Homo sapiens: one gene and its partners. Changing the gene in region 3 together with the main gene of any one other region gives a genetic interaction. Each region holds a gene or a part of one and is shown on either strand. Other genes may lie near its edges.

Region 1 (3,500 bases), on a different chromosome or scaffold from region 3:
GTGCCTGGGTTTGCTTCATCCACAGCCTGAGTGACTCTTAAGTTTCTAACTTCTTGACCATTAGTGACTACTTGCTATGGGAAAAGCACTTCAGACTTCACAAGATGAAACTATCCTAGGGCTTGTCATTTTGTTCAGTCCTCAACTTTCTACTCCATAGCCTATTTCTATGCAAACATCAGCATGTGGAGCTAGATGCTGGGAATCACAGAAGATTACATCTATTCCCCACTGGAACTCCTGTGAACCACCAGGGCCTCTGTCTCTGGCTCATATGAGTTTTACTGGTCCACTACAGGGAGGCCAAGAGTCAGGGAGGGCTTGTAACAGAAGGGTTGAGATGGGGCAAGAACAGGTGGCCTGTCCTTGACAGTTTGGTAGATATAAGAAGCTAGAGCAGGCCAGGCCCTACTGGCTTGTCCAATTCCTAGTTTTACACTGGGCTAGGAGATCTGCATCCCTTATTGCACACCAACCCCATCTCCACCGTTTGAAACTGCTCTCAGGATCACCCACTCCTGCTCTCCTAAAGTACTTTAAAGGCACCTGGTGGGGTGGAGAGACAGGGGAACTCACCAGAAGGTCCCTGGAGGCCAGGGGGTCCTTGAGGACCAGGAGGACCTGGAGGACCAGGTGGTCCCATAACAGTTGTTCCTGGAATTCCAGGAATCCCTGGAATTCCTGGGGGTCCCTGGGGTCCTGGAGGTCCTGGGGGTCCTGGAGGGCCATTGGGTCCAGGAGGTCCTGCTTTCTTTCCTGAAAAATAGGATTCAGTGTTACTTTTTTTTTTGAGACGGAGTCCTGCTCTGTTGCCCAGGCTGGAGTTCAGTGGCACGATCTCGGCTCACTGCAACCTCCACCTCCCGGGTTCAAGCGATTCTCCTGCCTCAGCCTCTGGAGTAACTGGGATTACAGGCGCGTGCCACCGCGACCTGCTAATTTTTGTATTTTTAGTAGAGACGGGGTTTCACCATGTCGGCCAGGTTGGTCTCAAACTCCTGACTTCGGGTGATCTGCCTGCCTCAGCCTCCCAAAATGCTGGGATTACAGGCGTGAGCCACCGCGCCTGGCCTCAGTGTTACATTTGTAGTTATTTCCTGTGATGAGTGTACTGTCAGGAGTTCTACAGACTTCTGAGGACACAAAGTCAGCTCTCTGGGAGGCCCTGCTAAAGAGTTGGATACCTTTATCACACATCTCTGTCTCCCTGTCTCCGTCTGTCTTATGCTTTCTCTCCCCTCCCCCCACTCCCTTTTGTGAATATGCATTTACAAAGCTAGGTTTGAGCATATAGAAATAAGTGGCCCTCCAGGAGATCAGTCTGTGTCTGTGGGGAAACAGACACAGTCATGGGATAGTAGAAGTGCTACCTTAGTGGGTAGGGACCAAATGCTGAAGAGGTCAGAGAAGGTTTCAAAAAGGAGGTTACATTTCAGCTGAGTCCAAAGGATGAGAATTTCTCTACCAAGTGATTAGACCTATGGGTCACTTTGTGGTTCTTTTTAGAAAGGGCTATTGTTGAAGAATGTGGAGCTTTTATGTTTACTGCCCAGTTTGGTGGACTTGATGTCGATAACAAGAGGAAGCCGTACAGCCTGGCCTTAGGAACAGTATCAGCTCCAGGAAGGTTCCTCCAGGAGTCAGGATGTACAGGAAATGGGGGTTGGGATGGGGACAGTGCTAGTCGGGAATGAGGAATGGGAAGGAGTTTTGGAGATGGGGGAATGGAGAAGGAGGAAGAGGGGCACGGAAAGAGGAGGAGGGAGAGAGAGAGATATTGAGAAACAGGAAAGAAGCAGAGACAGAGAGTAGAGGGAGCTGAGGAGGAGGCAGCAAGTTTCACTCTCTCAGCTGACCTCTGTAAACTCTATTTTAAAAGATCTCTGGGAAAGGAAATTCTGCAAACTCCATAGTAACATGTTCCAATGTTTATTGCCCCTCACTGCTCACTGTTAGGAAGTTCTCTGGTATATTAAATGATGTCCCTCTTGTGGCAGTTTAAGCTCTTATTCTATTTGTGTAGACAGAGAAGAATATACATATACATAATAATCCTTATATATGAAAAGAAATTAAGTTACCCACCAACCCCTATTTCTATAGGCTAAATAATCCAGCTTCCCAAAGTCTTTCCTCAGAAGTCCCATTCTCAAATGTATTATTAATCATGCCCACCAACTCTTCCCCCTTTCCTCCTTGCTATCCTTCTAGAACAATCTCGACCCTCCTATTTCATATTCCAGTCCTTTCAACATTCCCACCAGGATGTAGTTATCTTAAATGAGTCATAACTGTGGTCTTGAACCAAAACCTCCAGCTCTTCCTGTTGACTTCCTCTGCTCTGTGCAGCTCCACTCAAAGACTACATGTAGGCACAGGTCTTCTTCCTTCCTTCACCACCTTCTCACAATTTTATGGAAAGTTTCAGGAATGGAAGCCTGTTTCCAGACTTCATCACAATGTCTTCACCTGAGGTAGTTTCTTAGTTTTAAATACAACCTTCTCTAGTCTCACTAAAAACCTTCTTACTGACTCTGACTTCTTGCTCCCCAGACACTTAGGCAGGAGAATCTTGTCCTGATTTATCAGGTCCTCCCTTAAGAACAATGCCTCATGGCCAAGAAACCCAATCCTCATGGCAATGCCACTCAAGAGGCCATTTGTCTATGTCTAACCACATCTGCATTTGGAATGAAACCATGGGGTCATCGTGGGGTCTCTTCCTCAGAAAGGAAGGAAAGGAAGGTCCAGAGAACATCTCTCCCAGAAGAGTCCCTGTAGCCTTAAAGACCTAGAGGCATGAGCTTTAGAGGTTTCTCTGCACTTAGCAGCAAAAGATTGGATCTGCCCCGTTTCTAGATCTAGCCAATTTCAAGATGCTGAACAGGAAAACCATCTCCTTTCAGATTTGGGCAGCTTCCAAATCAGGCTTATTCAGAGCCCAAGTTTCAATTCCAGCTAGTGTAGTGGAAAGAACACAAAATCTGTACTCAGGAGATAAGGATGTAAGCCCCAGCTCTGCCACAGACACACTTTGGGCAAATCCCTTCCTCTCCTTGAGCCTTAGTTTCTACATCTGTGAAACAAGGAGCTTGGCCTCAATGATTTCTCTGTTTCCTCATGAGACTGAGTTTCTATAAGGAGGGGTGGCTTACCCCTTGCAGTCAGGAAGCTTTCTTAGCCTGGTTGTAAGGTTTGCTTCTCCCTCCTTATTTTCTAGGTGGCACAGACACAGAAGTTGGTGCATATTAGGCTGTCCTGTGTTCCAAGATTTCCAAGCCTAACAGTGATTTTCAAGCTAGAGGGTGTTCTGTGGGTAGCACAAACTTCACCTTCAAGAATGTGAGTCTCCTGTAATTGCTAATGTAATTTTGGAAGAATTAGAGCCAGAAACTCCTCCAGTCCAAGAGACTAATGGTTGCAGTGAAAACAGAGAATGTTCACTTATGAAAATGTTAGAAGGCATTTGAGAAAAAAAAAAACTCCTGCTTTGTTCCAGT
Region 2 (3,500 bases), on a different chromosome or scaffold from region 3:
GGCACGAGAATCGCTTGAACCTAGGAGGTGGAGATCACAGTGAGCCAAGATCGGGCCACTGCACCCCAGCCCGGTCGACAGAGCAAGACTCTGTCTCAAAGGAAAAAAAAAAAAGGAAAAGTCAGATGGACTTAGAATTACCACCCAATGCAGGTAAACTAACTTACTTAGGGACACGTACCAGTACTCTTCCCAATGCTCCTTAATATGCTGATTTTCTTTACTATTGATCCCCAGTATCTTAATATGTGAACTCAGCAGTTTAAGGTTGCATTTTTCCAAACTTCAGAATATTTACTAAATTGACTTCTTATAGCTACAAATCTTCTACAATATGACTGATTATCAAACGTAAAGATTCTAATGTATGTTTTCTCATACATTTTAAAGTTAGAAGTCTGTAAGACACCTGAGTTCTGAAAAACATATTTCCCAATGCTCAAACAAGAAGCACTAGATTAACTATTCTGTACACACCTTAACTTCTATTTCCTCCATCTGTACATTAATCAAATCACATAAACTATTTGTACCCACGTCTCCCCATTGATAAAATAGGGATAATGATGGTTCCTATATCAAAGAGTTGTTGTATTGCTTCAATGCCATAATAAATACACAATACTTAAAACAGTACCTGTCACATAACACAGAATAACTACTGGGGTCTTCAAGTATATGAAGCTGCTATAAAATGTAAAAGAAAATGAGTCAAGGATGGCTAGATGTGATCTGAATTCAAGCTCCAGGATATATTCACTTTATGTCTTTGAAAAGCCACCCAGCTTCTTGGAGTGGGAGAATCACATGTATAATCCAGATAATACTAGTCCGCCCAGTTCCTGGAGCTACCAAGATATAATAATGTACGCTAAATGATTTTTCTATTATAAAAAGTTACTATTTGTAAGCAATAACATCTTACTTGCCTAAGCAAAAAATATAACTAAGCAATCAAAATGTCAGACTGCATAACGAATTTAATCCTCACTCACAAATACTCAGGTTAGAGATAATCCTGCATAACTGGTTTTTCACTCACAGCAAAAAAAAACCTGAAAAGCAAGGGGATAAGAAACAGATAAATTTAACAACCAAAAAAGGCACCAACTAGAAACATAAACCACTCAAGGCACCTAAAGTTCAACAACAGGGGACATTTATTATAGAAATAACAGACTACCCGAAGGGATTTCTTGACAGATCTACTGTCCTGTCTGGTTCAATAACATGTTTTTTTGTTTTTTTGTTTTTTTTGAGACAGAGTCTCTGCCTGTCGTCCAGGTTGGAGTGCAGTGGTGTGATCTCGGCTCACTGCAACCTCTGCCTCCCAGGTTCAAGCAGTTCTCCTGCCTCAGCCTCCTGAGTAACTGGGATTACAGGCATCCGCCATCATGCCCGGCTAATTTCTTTTGTATTTTTAGTAGAGATGGGGTTTCGCCATGTTGGCCAGGTTGGTCTCGAACTCCTGACCTCAGGTGATCCGCCCACCTCAGCCTGCCAAAGTGCTGGGATTACAGGCGGGAGCACGGCCCAATAACATGTTCTTAATGATAATACTATGCCATCAAAACATGGTTAGATTGTGTTCCATGTTCTCTGACTAAAGCAGCAGAAAATTATGTATTACACTTCAGAAACACATATAATTAAAATAGCTAAAATGTGCAAGTTTTGGTGCTTGAAAGGATTTCAAATTATCTGACTGAAAAAATTATCTCACATGTCAAACAACTTACGTATGCACCACTCAAGTCAGAAAACTGGAAGAAGAGGCCAAGGGTCATATAATTTTTTTTGTTGTTAAAACATTAAAAGGCCAAACTGTATTATACTTCAGACCAGGATCTCAGAGAAGAGCTTCCATTTCAATGGAATTTAAACAAGCTGTTGTCCAGTCTCTTTAAATTCATAAGAGTATCACAAAAAATCTACAGTGACACATGTGATAGCCTGGCATTACAAATTCGAAGTATTTGATTCAACTCACAAAGCATTCCCACCAGCCTGCTGCGGTGGCTCACACCTGTAATCCCAACATTTTGGGAGGCCAAGGTGGGTGGGTCACCTGAGACCAGGAGTTCGAGACCATCCTGACCAACATGGTGAAACCCCGTCTCTACTATAAATACAAAAAATTAGCCAGGCGTGGTGGCGCATGCCTGTAATCCCAGCTACTTGGGAGGCTGAGACACGAGAATCGCTTGAACCTGGGAGGCGGAGGTTGCAGTGAGCCAAGATCCACTTGAACCTGGGAGGCAGAGGTTGCAGTGGGCCAAGATCATGCCATTGCACTCCAGCCTGGGCAACAAGAGCAAAACTCTGTCTCAAAAACAAAAAAAAAAACAAAAACAAAACAAAACAAAATAAAAAACAAAGTACTTCCACCAAAATTTTTCCATTAGATTTGAATAACCATCAGGTAGGTAAGGTAGTGATAACATTTATCCCCAAAGCTGTTGTGAGGATCACAACATCTAAAATTTAACAAAAAATTTAACCAAACAACACAAAATTTAACCAAACATCCCTGTACAGGGTCTTATAATAGGTGTCCAATTAATATTAGTGATTTTTCAAACAGATAAGAAATCAACAAATAAAAAGATGGAGAAATATGAACAAGCCCAGAAAGCTAACTAGCTTATCCTCAACTGTGTGCTCTTTTCTCACCAACACTCAAGCATTTACTAACCCAGTTTCTTCATGATTGATTTTCAAGAAAATTTCCACACAACAGGAGTATATTCATTCATTCACAACATCTGAGTGCCTTCTATACACGAGGTACTGTTCTAGACCCTTAGAAATACTGTAGTGAACAAACCTGACATGGGTGCCACTTTCAGGAAGCTGATATTCTAGTGTGAAGAAATAAGCAACAAGTAAAAAGAGTTTCAGACAGAAACAAGGACCAAACTGGATACCAAAATTCGCAGATGCTCAAGTCCTTTATATAAAATGGTGTAGCATTAGTTATTGCATATAACCTAGGCACATCTTCCTATATATCATCCCTAGATTGCATATAACATTTAATACAATGTAAATGCTATGTAAATAATTATTATACTGTATTGGTTTTTATTTGTATTTTTAGTTGTTTTTTTCCTAGTATTTTCGATCCATGGTTGGTTGAATCCATGGATGTGAGATTGCTGGATTCAGAATCCAAAGATATAGAGAGCTGACTGTATATGTAACTCATACTTTTCTATTTATTAATAACATACTCTACCTTACTTACAAAACCAGGGGAATAAGGTATCTAATAAGATAACTTAAAGGGGAAAACAAAATTTAAAAGGTAAGAAATTTCAATAGCAATGGGTTTCAAGCACTGAATTATGGAGGAGACAAATGTTTTATACTTCAGCCTTCAAAAGGGTTATCATCTCAATGAGAAGGGGAAAATATATTAACAGTAAATCACTAACAGTATGGATCACATACCAAGGTGAATGATACAAGCTGTCATTAAAAAGCTCAGAGAAAGGAAG
Region 3 (3,500 bases):
TGGGATTACAGGCGCCCGCTGCCACATTCAGCTAATTCTTGTATTTTTAGTAGAGACAAGGTTTCACCATGTTGGCCAGGCTGGTCTGGAACTCCTGACCTCAAGTGATCCGCCGCCTCAGCCTCCCAAAGCGCTGGGCTTACACGCATGAGCCACCGCGCCCAGCCACAGTGACTATTGTTTTAAGTCAGTAATATTTAGGGTGGTTGGTTGCACAGCAATGTTGTACAAGGTGGGGTTTCTCAAATTCAGCACTGTTGGCATTGTGGGCTACATAATTCTGTGTTATGGGGGCTGCTTTGTGCACTGTAAGGTGTTTGGTGGCATCTCTGGCCTCACCCATTAACTGACAGTAGGACCCTTCCCCCCAAACTCACACACCACCACCCCCAACTAGCTCTGACAACCGAAAACGTCAAATCACCCACTGGTTGAAAAACACTAATGTAAGAGTATGAAACTGGGACACTAACAGCCAACTGCCTCATCACATGGAAGTCAAGCAAAGTCAGAAACAGGGTGAAGGCAAGGCCAATATATGACTTCATAGGCCCTAGGTACTTTTGCCTTCCTCAGCCCCTTCCTCCATTAAAAACAAAAAAGAATTCAAAAATTATATTTTATGGGGCCAGGCATGGTGGCTCACACCTGTAATCCCAAAGCTTTGGGAGGCTGAGGCAGGAAGACTGCTTCAAGCCTGGAGTTTGAAACCAGCCTGGGTAACATAGTAAGACCCTATCTCTACAGAGAAAAAAGCAAAAATTAGCTGGGCGTGGTAGTGTGAGCCTGTAGTCCCAGCCACTGGGGTGGAAGGATTGCTTGAGCCTAGAAGGTTGAAACTGCAGTGAGCCATGATATACCACTGCAATCCAGCCTGGGTAATAGGGCAAGACTCTGTCTCCAAAAAAAACAAAAATTATATTTTATGACTACATTAGTATAAAGATGAATGTAATCCAGAATCATTATACATTATTATATTCATTTTTCCTATAATTTTAAAACAAATTAAAATTTAATTCAGTTAATTAAAAGTAATTAAATTCATTAAAATTAAATATCACAGATCCTAAGCACCGTGCCTACTCTGCCTAATAGAAAGTCAGCCCTGAGTGAGTATAAGGACAGGGCCACGGGATATTATTGAGGTCTCTGGAACTAGCTATGCCTAAAGCTAAAACTTAACTCATTCCTGGATTTCTCAGTTTCATGAGCCAATAAATTCACTCTTTTATTCACACAGGGTCTCACTCTGTCACCCAGACTGGAGTGCAATGGCACAATCACAGCTCATTGAGCCTCAACCTCCCGGGCTCCAGTGATCCTCCCACCTCAGCCTCCTCAGCAGCTGGGACCACGGGTGCAAGCCACCATACCCAGCTAATTTTTGTATTTTTTGTAGAGATGGGGTTTCACCATGTTGCCCAAGCTGGTCTTGAACTCCTGGGCTCAAGCGATTCACCCACCTCAGCTTCCCAAAGGGCTGAGATTATAGGTATGAGCCATTGCACCTGGCCTAAATTCAGTCTTTGAATTAAGTTTGTCGCTTGCAACCAAGAAGCCCAACTTACCTGGTCTCCCAGCTATAAGAGGTGCAGCCTGAATTTGAACCTGGATCTGTCTTATATAGAACCAGAGTTCTTACCGACTACTATCAACCAGTAACTCATTCTGCCTCAAGCATCTTTCTAGTTTTTCTCTCTCAGGACAGTTTTCAAGAAAAAGTTCCCCAAACTTACACTTCCGGACAAAGTTGCTCACGTGCTTAATCTTCATCAGAGCAGGCTGACTGCATTCTTCAAAGAGAACAAAGAGGGCATCTAATATCCCTTCTCGGGAAAGAGGAGACATCTGCTGTTGAGTCATAAAGGGTGGTTTCCCCTAAAAACAGCAAACAGCAGATGGAGACACTGTCAATAATGAAAAGCTTTGATCAATAACATCCACACAGAGTAAATTACAAGCCACCAACTCAACTAACTGCTCACGACATGCTAACAGCACAATTCTGTGGCTTCATTCTTTAAAGCAACGTCAACTGACAGTCATTATGGTATCACTTCCATGATTCCAAGACTGTGGGTTTCTTTCACCAGCACCTGGGAAGGAAAACTGCACAAGCGTGGCCATTAACAAGAAAAGCTCCCTCACTCCTGAGGGTCTGAGGCTAGTGAGAATATTTCCTCTGGATCCTCTGGCTCTGACATGCTTCCATGTTTCTACAATAGGAAACAATGGGTTTTTCACTTCTTTCATGTGTGCCCAGGGGTTTATTCATATAATTTCAGCTTTTTTAATTCATTTGAACAACCTAGAGTAATAAGAACTGAGTGACCATCGTAAAGCCAAATTTACTCATGATCTGGAGAAATAGTTACAAACTGGCAGACTGTCTCTAGCCCACAGATATGTTTTGTTTGGCCTGTAGTGTTTAAGATAATTTGAATTATCTGCCAATATTTCAAAATCAGGAGATTCCATACAAAAAAATAAAAATGGAGTCTCTGGCTTCTTTTGAAACACTGGCACATCCGGCAACACTGCCTCGCCTTCCTGCCTGATGACGCTGAGCTGGAGCTGAGTAATGCTGCCCCTCCCGGTAGCAGATGTGTTTGGGAGTTCACTGCAGGTCTGACTCCATCTTCCAACTGGCCCACTTGACTCATTTATACTCACTGCCTGGCCCCCAAAGACATGAGTCTGCAACCCTGGTATAGAGCAGTGATTCCCACGTGCCAAGCCATGGATAGTGGTGGTCTCTCTTCAAAGATGGCCTCCAACAGTTCCTCCAATTCTGTAGGCACATGCTACTCCTTACTTTAAGCGCTGGAGTCTATTTCTCCTGCCTTTGAATCTGTGCCATCTCTGAGACTCTCTTCAACCAAAAGAATGTGACACAAGTGACACTGTGCCAGTTCAGGGCAGTGCCTTTAAGAAGCTTGTCAAGCGGCCAGACACGGTGGCTCACATCTGTAATCCCAGCACTTTGGGAGGCCAAGACGGGTGGATCACTTGAGGTCAGGAGTTTGAGACCAGCCTGGCCAACATGGTGAAACCCTGTCTCTACCAAAATACAAAAATTAGCCAGGCGTGGTGGTAGGCACCCGTAATCCCAGCTACCTGGGAGGTTGAGGCATGAGAATTGCCTGCACCCGGGAGATGGAGGTTGCAGTGAGCCGAGATCACACCACCGCACTCCAGCCTAGGCAACACAGTGAGACTCCCTCTCAAAAAAAAAAAAAAAAAAAAAAAAGGCAGCTTAGCAGCTTCCACTTTTGGGAAGCCAGCCACCATGCACAGATGCTTGGGCTAGACCAGGGGTGTGCAATCTGTAGCCCTTGGACCAAATCCAGCCCACGGACTTTTTATAAGTTTTACTGGAACACAGCTACACCCATCATTTACATATTGTCTTTAGCTGCTTTTGTGCTACCATGGCCAAGTTGAGTGGTTGCAACAGAGACTACAGGACCCACAAAGCCTAAAATATTTATTACTTA
Region 4 (3,500 bases), on a different chromosome or scaffold from region 3:
AAGAATGTCTCCCCCTATTGGATGATTTAGCAAATGTACAGCATGAATTCCTCATCGAATCTCATCAAAAGTCAAATTCTTATGGCAGTAGGCCAGTATTTCTCAAAATGGGGCCAAAGATACATTCTACAAGGTCCAAGAAGTTTCCATAAGACTTACATATTTTTGTTTTCATTTGTAATTAAAAACATTAATATCCATATTCTGGATTATCTGTGTTGTGAGTATAAATTTCAGTGCCCAGGCTTGTGTTTGCTCCATGATCTCACTGGCACCTAGCTGCCCACTGCTGTTACAGGCAGACATGAATATGATACATTCTTGCCAAATCAACACTAACCAGGCAAGGCAGGCTACACGATTAAAGGTTTCAAAGTATTTTAAATAGAAAATGCAGAGGGGCAGTTGAGTAGAGTTGGGTATGTGATAGCAGTCTGACCAAAACCCCCTCCCTTCTTGCCCTGAGCAGCACTTTGGTTTCAGCAAAATCTCTTGTCAATGTAACTGAATGTTTTCAATTTAAGTTTTGCAGGCTGTTTGGGTTTATTTGTACAACTGCTTTCTGATTTGACTTTCTGACTCTGAGTTATGAGTTCTAAGCATCAAGACTATGGAGTGTTACCTAGTTTAGGACTGTATACATTTAAACAATTTAATATAACTCATTTAATGCTGGAAATCAGACTGATGAGCTCATCTATTCCTGCTGTCATCATCGGATAAACTCAAAACCAGTTAATACAACTCTCTATAAAGACAGAAGTCCGGAAAGTCCTTTTCCTATGGTTTCCTCTTTTGGCCACTGTGGCTCTCTGCTCTTCTCTCATTCTGCTAGAGAAGCAGCAAGAGGAAAACAGAGGAGGGTCCCTCTACTTTCCTTACAATTAAGGCTTAAAGAAAAGTGCTCATTTTTCTCATCTTTTACTCCAAGGAATCCAAGTTTCCCTAATTCTACGAGGCACCACATCTGGAAGACAGGATTACTGTGTAGGCTTAATTAAGGCAAACAGGCCAGAACCTTGCTTTTAATTCAGGCTGTAGGCTCCAGGGGCACACACGTTCCAGGTTCAAAGGGACAAAGAAATCATAGTTGGCTGTTGAGACAAAGCACTGCAGTGAGACATCCCATCCCCTCTGCATCTCAACTCTTGGGATGGGCCATGGGGAGCTGCTGGATCAGTGACTCAGGGTCTTGGCCATCTTTCTTTCTACAAAGACAGCTTCACAGCTAGAAAGGCTCTTAGGATTACTCTGCCCAAACAATATTATAGAAAAAACAGAGTATGACAACTAAGAAAAATACTGAAATAATGCTAAAATACAACGCCGACTCTTCATATGATAGGAGAAAAATGTCCAAATTGAGAGGAAAATTGGTGGATAGTGGTGGTGCTAATGCCTTTTGGTGCTTCACTGTGAAACCACTGACAAGAAAAGAAACACAGTAACTTGGGCATGACCTTAAGGCTTCTGGGGCAGTGCTGATGAATATGAAGATAGTTAATTTAAGAGCTACACAAGTACAACAGAATTTCTGTTCCTTATCATTAAAAAGCACATATTTAACGCCTAACTGTCCAAGGCATATAGTCAATGGGCAAATAAACCTTTCATCTTTTGCTTTTCAGAATTCTCATTCAACCTAAAAATGCAGTTCTCCATGGCCTAAAACTGGTTCTCCAGAAGAGCAATTTCTGATACCTCTACTGGGGACACAGTGAGAACCAACACAATCTTTTTAAAATAAGTGTTGTTCCAAATGATGGCTTCTCTTTATTTCCAACATGGCACCCAAGTATCTGGTTTTAAACTGCCCTAAAATCCTATATGCCACTATAAGAGAAAAACAGGCAATTGAATTATGAGAACAGTGAATATAAATCAAACAATCATCTTTTAAAAAACTGCTTCTGGCTGGGCGCAGTGGCTCAGGCCTGTAATCCCAGCACTTTGGGAGGCTGAGGTGGGCAGGGCAGACCACCTGAGGTCAGGAATTCGAGACCCCCTGGCCTCGCCTGGCCAACATGGCAAAACTCCTTCTCTACTAAAAATACAAAAACTAGCCAGGCGTGGGAGCACATGCCTGTAATCCCAGCTACGCGAGAGGCTGAGGGAGGAGAATTGCTTGAATCCGGGAGGCGGAGGTCGAAGTGAGCCAAGATCGCACCACTGCACTCCAGCCTGGCTGACGGAGTGAGACTCCGTCTCGAAAATAAATAAAAAGTAAAAAACATGCTTCTATTATCCTTTCAAATATTCAAAATTCCTAAGGAGGCTGGATGCGGTGGCTCACGTCTGTAATCCCAGTACTTTGGGAGGCTGAGGCGGGTAAGGTCAGGAGTTCGAGACCAGCCTGGCCAACGTGGTGAAACCCCGTCTCTACCAAAAAATATAAAAAAGTAGCCAGGTGTGGTGGCGCGCACCTGTAATCCCAGCTACTCGGGAGGCTGACATAGGAGAATTGCTTGAATCTGGGAGGCGGAGGTTGCAGTGAGCGAAGATTGTGCCACTGCACTCCAGCCTGGATGACAGAATGAGACTCCATCTCAAAAAAAAAAAAAAAAAAATTCCTAAGGACTTTGCAATAATCTTAGGTATTCTCTCTTCTCAGAAGCTAGTCAGTCATTGAAAGCCTTATGACTATTTGGGATCTGGGAGCTGGTCCATGGGTTAAAACTGGAACATTTACTCACTATGTAGTCTTCATCTTCGTCCTTGGGGCCAGGGCTGTAATACACTCTGTATGCTCTGGCCACTTGATCGACCTCTTCTCTCGTGCCAGTCAAGCCAACCAGTTTGGGAGAAAATTCTAAATAAAAAATGAGAGAGACAGTGAAAAATGAGAAGCCAGTAAAACAACCATCTCTACTTCAAAAAATGTATCAGTTGTAAAGCAGCTCTACTGCCACTTTCTTCCTGTGAGTCTCCAAACATTTCTTCACGATTCAAAGGAAAAGGAGAAGAAATTCACAAAGAACAAATGAAAATTCTCCTTTGTAATATATAAGTCAAATCTTTTTATGACTATCTAGTAAAGACCTGGAGGGAATATTTTCTAATCACTTGTATCACATTTTAAATTGATTTTTAAGGAGTAGTCACATGTAGTTCTCAGATATACTAAAGCTTAAAATTATTATCATAAATTAAATACTATAACTTTTCATGGCATCATATGGGGAAAAAAATTTGCTTCATAACTAAGTTCATATCAGGTCAAAATACCTGTGTCTTATTTTCCTGCAAATAATTTCAACACTGGTATCAAGTTCTACTCTTTACTTCTGATTTAAAAAAACTGGTTAATTAATACTAGTCATCCCCAAAACGCAATCTTAACAAAGTTCTGAAATAAGGGCAAATCATTCACAGCGTGTATCTGCTATTAAGTTTTTGGAATTCATGTAAGTGAACCGGTAGAGGTCACTTAAAACAACTGGATTCATCAAACTACTGAAATGACAGCCCAACATTTAACAGCAGTTCCTTTTTCTAAAGGT

What was found. Genes that interact genetically often act in the same process or in processes that back each other up.
Region 1: changes in CIT (region 3) and EDA together harm fitness less than expected from each alone (positive genetic interaction), as found in Homo sapiens cells (one large-scale study listed by BioGRID).
Region 2: changes in CIT (region 3) and EIF3H together harm fitness more than expected from each alone (negative genetic interaction), as found in Homo sapiens cells (one large-scale study listed by BioGRID).
Region 4: changes in CIT (region 3) and SCO1 together harm fitness more than expected from each alone (negative genetic interaction), as found in Homo sapiens cells (one large-scale study listed by BioGRID).

The regions. Positions count from the first base shown.
Region 1 is NC_000023.11:70,025,113-70,028,612, reverse strand, and holds part of EDA (ectodysplasin-A), read right to left. Parts: intron 757-3,500; coding exon 577-756; intron 1-576. UniProt on the Homo sapiens protein: Cytokine which is involved in epithelial-mesenchymal signaling during morphogenesis of ectodermal organs. Functions as a ligand activating the DEATH-domain containing receptors EDAR and EDA2R. May also play a role in cell adhesion.
Region 2 is NC_000008.11:116,745,824-116,749,323, forward strand, and holds part of EIF3H (eukaryotic translation initiation factor 3 subunit H), read right to left. Parts: intron 1,304-3,500; exon of another isoform or gene 1-1,303.
Region 3 is NC_000012.12:119,867,321-119,870,820, forward strand, and holds part of CIT (citron Rho-interacting kinase), read right to left. Parts: intron 1,882-3,500; coding exon 1,740-1,881; intron 1-1,739. UniProt on the Homo sapiens protein: Plays a role in cytokinesis. Required for KIF14 localization to the central spindle and midbody. Putative RHO/RAC effector that binds to the GTP-bound forms of RHO and RAC1. It probably binds p21 with a tighter specificity in vivo.
Region 4 is NC_000017.11:10,684,034-10,687,533, forward strand, and holds part of SCO1 (protein SCO1 homolog, mitochondrial), read right to left. Parts: intron 2,810-3,500; coding exon 2,694-2,809; intron 1-2,693. UniProt on the Homo sapiens protein: Copper metallochaperone essential for the maturation of cytochrome c oxidase subunit II (MT-CO2/COX2). Not required for the synthesis of MT-CO2/COX2 but plays a crucial role in stabilizing MT-CO2/COX2 during its subsequent maturation.